2 separate regions of the Homo sapiens genome follow, and region 1 is linked to region 2. Evidence: fine-mapped expression QTL. A gene starts in region 2. The other region holds a variant in brackets. All regions are shown on one strand. Distances are from middle to middle.

Region 1 (4,345 bases), 44 kb before region 2:
TCTACTTGGAATGATTTGGCATAGGGGTAGATTTAGGACTCTTAATTTCCTGTTAGTCTAAAGTAAACATAAGTGAAATAATTTCACAGAAACAATTACACAGCTAATTGTAATGTCTCTCCAGCCATCCTTTTCCCACTGACCTTTAGGGGTCTTCAGGATGACTCTTCAGCCTTGCAGAGCATGCTGGTGGCAGGCTGAGCTTGGCTTAATCATAAGGTGGGAACAAGTGGAGTACATGAGGCATGTTATCACCAGTGAGAAGGAGATGTGGAGGTGACAAAAGTGACTAACAGGATTGAGCTCCATGGTGGGGTTCTGCGATTTGTTCTATTCACTATGGTCATGGAGCAATAAAGAACTGGTCCTGAATAAGCATTTTAAATGCAGCACACCAGACCATCGCACAGGGCCAAAAGTCCAGAATTGTATCTATGTTTTTTAGTCTGCAGTTGCCAATCACATACTTTTGGAACAACTTTAGGCCTCTGATGTTACTTTAGCCCTGGGTGGTAGGTACAGAAAAGCCTCCAGAAACCCTACAATTCAGTGACATTCTTACTTCTCTCCAGTGTTCGGCACCATTTTGGAAATCTGGTCCCAAAGTTTCAAAAGAATACTAATGCAACAAAAAGAAATAACCTCTCTGTATAAAGTGATTATAGAGATGTGTGTTGAGGTAAACAGCTTCATAAAAACCGTTGAGCAGGGAAGCACAGCCACTGCTATAGAAATTTTTAGGTAAGTCTGGTGCTAGCATTATTCTACAAAACTGTTTACACCCATTATAAATAGGGGACAGTTCTTATTGCTCCTGGAGCTTGTAGCTCCAATCTGTTCCAGCTCCACTGAAAAATGATTTTTCTCAACAATTGGTAGCAAAGATTTCCAAATTTACAAAAAGTCATTACCAATGCATCACTTTTTGATTAATTTCTGATTGCCATATAGATATGGACTACAGTATGCATGTCCTTGACACCAAGTACAGAAAAAAAGCTTAGAAAAGTCGTTTTATCAAAGTTCAGTTCAATGAGAAACATGAAAAAGTGCAAAATATGTACAATTCCTGGCAGTTCTCACACGGGATTTTTTTGACTACAGACCATAAAAGTTTACATTTGTGTAATGAAATGACAATGGATTTCACATCACTGTTAATATACAAGTTTTTGCTTCAAAGTGCTTACTTTATTTATAAAAGAGAAGATCAAGAGGGTTGCAGGAATTTTTTTTTTTTAACAACAAATCAATGGTATGTGTCCCAATCTCCTTCTTCCTCTTCCTTTAGTGCAACATGGCGCAGCAGCCTCATGGATAAGGTCTGATTTCAAAAGACATTCCTGAAACCTCACCTACAGCAGCACTCTAGGGGTCCCATTAGGGGTGGCTCTCTTTTTCTTCTGCAGCCGATTCTGAACCTTTCGAGATTTTACTACTTTCATTCTCACCTCAAAAACTTCATGAATGGCCTTCCGGAAGCAATGAAAATTATAGTCAATTAGCCCTGGAGAAGAGAACAAAAATATTTATAAATGTCACGTAGAAATAATCTCCATCTTTTCATGGGACCCATGGCCAGGACAAGCCAGTAGGGGGCAGTAGAGGATGGTCTTAGCGTAAGGACCAGAGATTTCCCTGGGATGTCTGCAGCTGGCCTTCAGAAATTGCTATAAATCTTTAGGAATTATAGGCAAAGTCTTGTGAAGGAAGATTTTTCCTGATGCAAGGTTGCAGAGCATAGACCATATTTTCAAAGGTTCCTATGACCCAAAAGATTTAAAGAACGACTGAACTGAACTTTTTTTTTAACCTTTCAGAATTAAAGATTTCTTACAATTAAGAGAAATCTGTAATGAAAAATGTTTCTCCCCAAAGGGCATTATTAGACTGAGTAGAGGCAGATCCTGACTTGGGATCCCAAAGCTGTGTATCAATCAATAAATATTTACTGAGTATCTATTATATTTAAACCATTCTCATAAGCCCGAGGGAAAGCGAAGCCCCTAATTTTAGAGTGTTAACAGTCATCTCGCCAACTCCAGCAGAAATTCAACAACCAATGACACTCAGCTTTTCAGTATTAAGTATTTTAAGTGGAGAAATAGTAGGAGGGAATCTTCTTGTGTTTTCAGAAATGTATCAGTGACACAAAAAATAGAATAAAAGATAATCCAAAGTCTTGATGAGTGCATTTTTCATCATTACTAGTAATTTGTAAAAGTCCTGAGAGCAACATTATGTTTACACCAATTAGGATAAGGTGGTCAGTTCTATTTACTATCTTTGAATTTATTAAAATAACTAGCCCAACAATTATTTCTATCTATCAGTGGATGCTTCTAGAGCCGCGTCCAAAGGAAGAATTAGGATTCCGGCCAAGGATTAAATTCTTCAAACTAGTTATACAACTAACTGCAAGGGGAGGGCGGGGAGGGCACCGTCTCGGTTTCCAGGAGCAGGAAAACCTCTGAGTAGTGCCCTCTGCTGCTTCTGCAGAGAGAGTGAACCACTAGTGCAGTAAAACCAGGAGTCAATTTCCTCAAGGAAAGACCAATGTCACAAGCAAGGGGAAAAGTAATAAAAACAAAGGAGCAAAGGAACGATTTTTAAATGGCAATTTGAATATGAGATGTGAGAGCCTCAAGATTCTCTGCTTTTATGTGCAACAAACTGTCTTAAAAAGCTTAGCTAAAAGAACTTGGCTCAATGAGAAGGGTACAATGAAATACTCAACTTGGGAAATTTCAGACATATCCTGTTCTTATTTCTGAGGCAGGGTCTCACTCTGTCA[C/T]CCAGGTGGGAGTGCAAGGCTCAATCACAGCTCATTGCAGTCTCAACCTCCTGGGCTCAAGCAATCCTCCCACCTCATTTTTGAATTTTTCCTAGAGATGAGGTCTCACTATGTTGCCCAGGATGGTCTTGAACCTCTAGGCTCAAGCAATCCTTCCACTTTGGCCTCCCAAAGTGCTGGGATCATAGGCATGAACCACTGGCACCCGCCCCTATTGTTCTTGACAAACCTTAACTTACATATCTTTGCACATTTCAAAATGTAACAGTAATCTTGCTGTGTTTGGAATTTTAAGTAAAAGTTCACAACTGAGGCTTTTTAAAGACAGTAAATATCCATAAACAGTGTTTGCTATTTCAACCCTCATGAAAAGTTTTTGAAAATACATGAACAGAGACATAAACAAAATAAACACTCTCTTCACCCCACCTACAGTTCATAAGGCCCCACATCCTTCTCTGGTTCAGGAGTTCTCAACCCTAGCTGCACAATAAAAACACCCAGGCACCAGGCACACCAGGAGGCCAGGCACAGCACAGCACTTCGGGAGGCTGAGCAGGGAGGATCACTTGAGGCCAGCAACCTTTAGCCCTGACTGCCATAAAGTGGTGGTGTGATGTTGAGAGAAAGTCATTTATATTTTCTAGGCCTGAGTAAAATCATCTGTGACATGAGAGGGTGAAACAAGGTGTATTCCTGTCTATCTTTAAAATTCCGTGATCTATTATATAATCTGTTCTTGTTTCTAGCAAGATGAAAATAAGGAGTAAAAGATGAACACCATTTAATTTACAGTTCTGAGGCCAAAGGACACAAAAGGCAATTTGGTCAGTCATGGTACACACAGGAAAAATACAGGACATCACTAAGCAGCAAGAAAATGTAAATTCACATAATATACCAGTTTTCAGTTAACAACTTTTAAAAATACTAATACCCAATATTGATAAGAACACAGCAAAATAAGTATTCATATTCTCTTCGCAGCATAAAACCAGAAAATCTTTCTGAAGAACATTTTGGTAATATGCATTAGAAGCCCCCAAAATGGGCCTACCCTTTTGATCTAAGTAATTCCACTTTAAATTTTTCCTTAGGAAACAACCAAAGATGCACATAAATATTTAGTGCAAAAGAGGTCATAATGATATTATTTATAACATTAAAATCTAGAAACAACATAGATGTCTGAAAATAGAAGAATCTAATACAATCATTAAAATGATGTGGTTAAAAAAAGACGGTGAATTGGAAACATGTCTGTAATAATTTAAGTGAAGGTTATAAAGTAGAATTCATCATACAATCTATCATAGTCCTTTTAGAAAATGCATATGCAAGAAAGGACTGGAAAAGTATACAGGAAATGTTAAGAGTAGTTATCTGAATGAGAAACATCGATAATTATTGTTTTTTTGCTAAATATTATTTCTAAATTTTCTAAAAGAATCTATTACTTTTCTGATAAAAATAAACAATGTAAATTAAGTTTTCATGGCCAATGAATTAGGAAAATTTCATGATATACGTAAGTGAAATATATGTAATATA
Region 2 (4,353 bases):
TTTCTGATTCATTGAAAGTCGTGCCTGCCAGATGTAGAATAATGAAACTACCCTAGTGAGAAAAGCTTTGCATAGAGAATTTAAAATAAGTTCAGTGAATTCTCAATAAAAGTTCTTTAAAAATCAATAGTCACAAAGGTACTTGTATCTCTCACACAATTTCTTCAGTGTGAAACATTAAAGTTAGTTCCTTCTCTTGGATGCATACAGTTTCACTGAGAATAACATCATGTTTAACAGCCGCTTTCTATTGACCTTTCCAAGTGACCTTACAGTAAAGGAACTTTTGCTCGCTTCTGAGGGAAACTAAAAAAAGTTTAACCTCTCTGGAATACTAAAAGGCTCTCAACTTCCTTACACCTTAAGAAAATGCAGGAAGCCCCCACAAGCTGAACGATTGCTAAAACCCGCTTCTAGAACAGGAAAAAGAGTTTGCTTCACTATTGAAGCAAAGAATTCCCCGCCGCGCGCTCACTCCCGGGCAGGCACTGCCATGTCCAGGTGGTGATACCGAGAGCAGATAAGGTGTCCTGACAACGGTGTTTGCGTGGATCCCGGGAAATCTGCGGCCTCTCGGAGACTCCCACAACAGCTTGGCGAGCATCCCCCCGCCGCCCCGCGGGTCTCCCCAGCCACTACCTGGGTGGGCCCCTCCCGCGGCGACGCGGGGCGAGACTGACACCCGCAGCTGCCGACGACCCTGCCAGTCACGCCGCCGCCGGCTGCCTTTTTTTAGCCACGACATCTGACCCTGGCTTCAACAGCACCGTTCTGGGAGAGAGGTCCCAGGGCGCGCCCGCGGTCCCCTCCCCTCCCCAACCGCCAGACGCTGCGGAGAGCTTGGGGTGAGGGGCGCGGGAGGCACCGGCTCTGAAAGGGGCAGAAGCGCGCGCTCCTCCAGCCCAGACGCTTACTCCCTCCTTCCCCTTTTCCACCGATCCTGGTTGCCCCTCCGCCACCAGCACCGCGCTCCCTCATTTGGCAGCTCGAGGTCGGGCTTTTGGCGTCCCTCCCCACCCCAAACCCTCAACTGGACCCGCTCCCCTGGACCCCCTCCAAGTCGGTGGCTCGCGCACGGCCGGGCTGGGGGCGGGAAGGCGCCAAGGGGAGGAAAGGGGCGCGAGCCGAGGACGCGGGGGCCGGGCGCTCACCTCCCTCCTCTGTGCCGCTGTCCGGATCGGCGTCGGAGGAGTCGGGCCCGTCTCCGTAGTCCGCTAGCCCCACCAGCTCATCCTCCTCCTCCTCCTCCTCCGCGTCGTCCTCGTCCTGCGGCTGCGGCTTCCCCAGCACCTGGCTCATCGTGCCCACCGGCCGGCCGGCCCGGGGACGGCGGGGGTCCCGGGGTGGGGGCCAAGCCTCCTAGCCGGCCGCCCGCAGCCTATTTCTGAAGCGGAGGTTTGTCTAGAGCTCAGCGGGGCCCGGCGGAAGCGGGGGCCGCGCGTCCCCCGGCGGGCGGCGCCCAGGTCCGGGTCCCGCGGTTCCCAGCGCGCCCGAAGCCCCCTCCCCCGCCCCGCCCGCCGGCGGAGGAGTCAGCCGGAGCGCGGCAGTTCCTCCCGGAGGAGGGAGAGAGAGAGAGACTGCGTGACCCGAGTCACCTGACACACACTGTCACATACTCACATACACACCCCGCACGGGCGCGCGCGCGCTCGCCCGGCCGCGGGCACCACTCGGCGGGGCGCTGGGCCGAGGACACACATGCACACGCACACGCACACGCACGAGGAGACCGGGGAGGCGCGGGGCCCCTGCACCCTCCCAGACTCACACCGACACACGCCCCGTACACGGGGCCCCCGGGACGCCGGCCGTCACCCACCGCGGCTGCGCGCCAGGGGCCCCCACGCGCCTCTCCTTCACGTGGTCCCCGCACAGGCAGGGGAGGGGGCGCCGCACACCCTCAATGTCCCCCCCGCCGTCCCACTCCCACACGCCCGCAGAGCGTCTACCGTGGGCGGATGCCTCCTGCTTACAGTCCTGAGCTAGGGTCCCAAGCGGGTGGCCTCCCAACACTGTGGCGCCCAGATCCCCCACCCCAGAGCAGCGTGCCCAGGACACCCTGTGGACGCTCAAGAGCCCCAGGCGGAGAACTCAGATAAATGCACAGTGGAGGCGCAGTCTCCATAGCAATTGTCTTTTAGTGTGCCTTTATGGTTCAAAGTGCTTCCCACCAAGAATATTTAAAAAGCAGGCCTACCCAGACGTAAATGTTTCTGAAGAAATCACATGACTCGTGGCTGCTTAGACTAAATAATTCCTCTGCAGCCCTTTGGAAAAGGTCTCAGTGTATAACACACTCGGGGGCTATTCATGGCCACCTCCTCATGTCTCATTGTTGCATAGACTGTAATCCCACATGAATAAAATATTTCAAGGCTTTTGTGGGAGTAGGGGAGTGGCGGTGGTGGGGGGGCAATTCTCAAATAGGAATAGCAGCAACGTGGAGTGAGACTCTAAAACCTGCATTCCTCCTTCACAAGCTTTTCACCACGGAACACACTGTACCCACCCTTTCTGGGTACTGCAAAAAATTACGTGGATGAACTTCCTTCTGTGGAGCACAATAAGAAAAAACCGGCCGGTCAGCATGATGATCCAGCTCCTACAGGTGCCAGCAGCTCAGCCGGTGGTGCGGTGCAGAAGCGGAGGGAGGAAGCTAGGGCAGGAGACTCTCAGGGCCCAAGGGTGCTAACCTCCATAGGAAACATTTATTAACCACCTCCTATATGCCTGAGGCTGGGCTAAGTAGAGGGTCCAAGAATGCTCAGGGCAGTGTTCCTGCCCTGAAGGAGCTCACAGTCTACCAAATCATGACTCATGTCCTGGATTTTTTTTAGTATTTCTGAGTGCAGAAGGTGGATGCAGACACTTTCCAGAAGGTGGCTGCTTCTAATGGGAAAGGTCCTGAGATTTTCCAAGGGAGGCAGGCAGTATAATTTGGTATGACTGTATCAGTTAAGGTTCTTCCCAGGATGAAACAGACGGTATGTGCAAAGACTTTAACTGAAGCCTTCAAGTGAAGGAACAATTTACAGGGGTGTGGACAGAGTTTAGGGAATCAATGCAGGTATTAGCGATAGTGGGAAGATAACACCACCCCTAAATTTACAGGAGTGAGGAAGGGAGCTAGAGTCCTGGAGAGGGGCCACAAAACAGGAGCTGTAACTGATGAGGAAGCTGCTGCTGCCAGAACGGCCTCACATCAAGGAGAGAGCAAAGACCTCTCTTTCTCTCCATCCATCCTCCCTCCACTCTCCTGTGTCTCCCATTGGCCAAACCCATCTGGTAGCCAGAAGGCAAGGGAGCCTGGAACCTAGTCCAGGACAGAGATTGGATAGGGAGGGCAGGGAGTGGGTCCCTGGGTGGGGTGAGGTGCAAGGAGCATCACCAACACAAGCAGGCACTACATACTCCCATCAGAGGCAAGTTACTTATGCCCTTCTAAACCCGATTGCTTATCAATAGAACATCACTCCTTCTAAGGATTATTAGGAAGATTAAATGAGGCGGAAAAAAAATCTCAGGTACTTACAAAGCTCATTTCCTAGGAGTAATTTTCCTAGCCTATTTTCATCCCTTCCGTCAAAGGAAACCCCAGGGAGGAGGGCCTCCCAGAGTGTGGCTGAGGACTTTCAGCTATTCTATAGCTAGCCCACCATCCTCAAGTGGCCTTTGAACTGGTCTGATTCAAACTGCAAATAACAATTTAGGAGATCTAGAAGACTGTCCAAGGTCAACCCAGACTCAGACGTATAGGGCATTCCTGGGCAGGTTGCCAAGTGTGTAAGACCCATGGACTCAAGGGATCAGGAAAGGGCAGGTCATAATCCAACAGCCCCACTGTGCCTATGGACTAGAAAGGACAGAAATGTCTGATGATCCTCTAACTTCCCCAGGAAGAGAGATCTTAGAAGGAAACAATAGATTGGGGCACACTCCAAGATACTTGAGAATTGGACCATTCTTTTGTTTTTTTCTTTTAACATGGAGTCTCACTCTATCACCCAGGATGGAGTGTAGTGACATGATCTCAGCTCACTGCAACCCCTACCCCCCAGGTTCAAGCGATTCTCTTGCCTCAGCCCCTGAGTAGCTGGGACTACAGGCATGCACCACCACACCCAGCTAATTTTTGTATTTTTAGTAGAGACAGCGTTTCACCATGTTGGCCAGGCTGGTCTCGAACTCCTGACCTCAGGTGATCCACCCACTTCGGCCTCCCAAAGTGCTGGGATTACAGGCATGAGCCACCGCACCCAACCTGGACCATTCTTAAGAATAAGAATAAAATAAAATCCCACAAAAAAATCAGTAGAAGTCAAATCCTCAATTATATTCTACCCCAAGCTAAAG

Alleles and levels. Positions count from the first base shown, and alleles are read on the strand shown. Sizes are in standard deviations (SD) of each study's normalised expression.
For the expression in CD4 T cells of the gene that starts at base 1,579 in region 2, allele C in region 1 goes with a higher level than allele T (moderate effect, 0.54 SD a copy in BLUEPRINT).

Evidence for each region.
Region 1: its variant is fine-mapped to the expression of RRAGD in CD4 T cells (BLUEPRINT, PIP 0.95).

Annotation. Positions count from the first base shown.
Region 1 is chr6:89,366,701-89,371,045 of GRCh38, forward strand. RRAGD (Ras related GTP binding D) reads right to left here. Exons shown (of 7, transcript NM_021244.5): 7 at 1-1,507. The coding sequence ends at 1,356. Among named protein-coding and RNA genes, the nearest start is that of UBE2J1, 16 kb to the left of the region's middle. RefSeq lists an enhancer at 1,337-1,566. The variant C/T (reference allele first, on the strand shown) is at 2,795.
Region 2 is chr6:89,410,695-89,415,047 of GRCh38, forward strand. It overlaps RRAGD (Ras related GTP binding D), which reads right to left and starts at 1,579. Exons shown (of 7, transcript NM_021244.5): 1 at 1,152-1,579. The coding sequence starts at 1,299. RefSeq lists silencers at 536-635, 666-775, 806-1,995.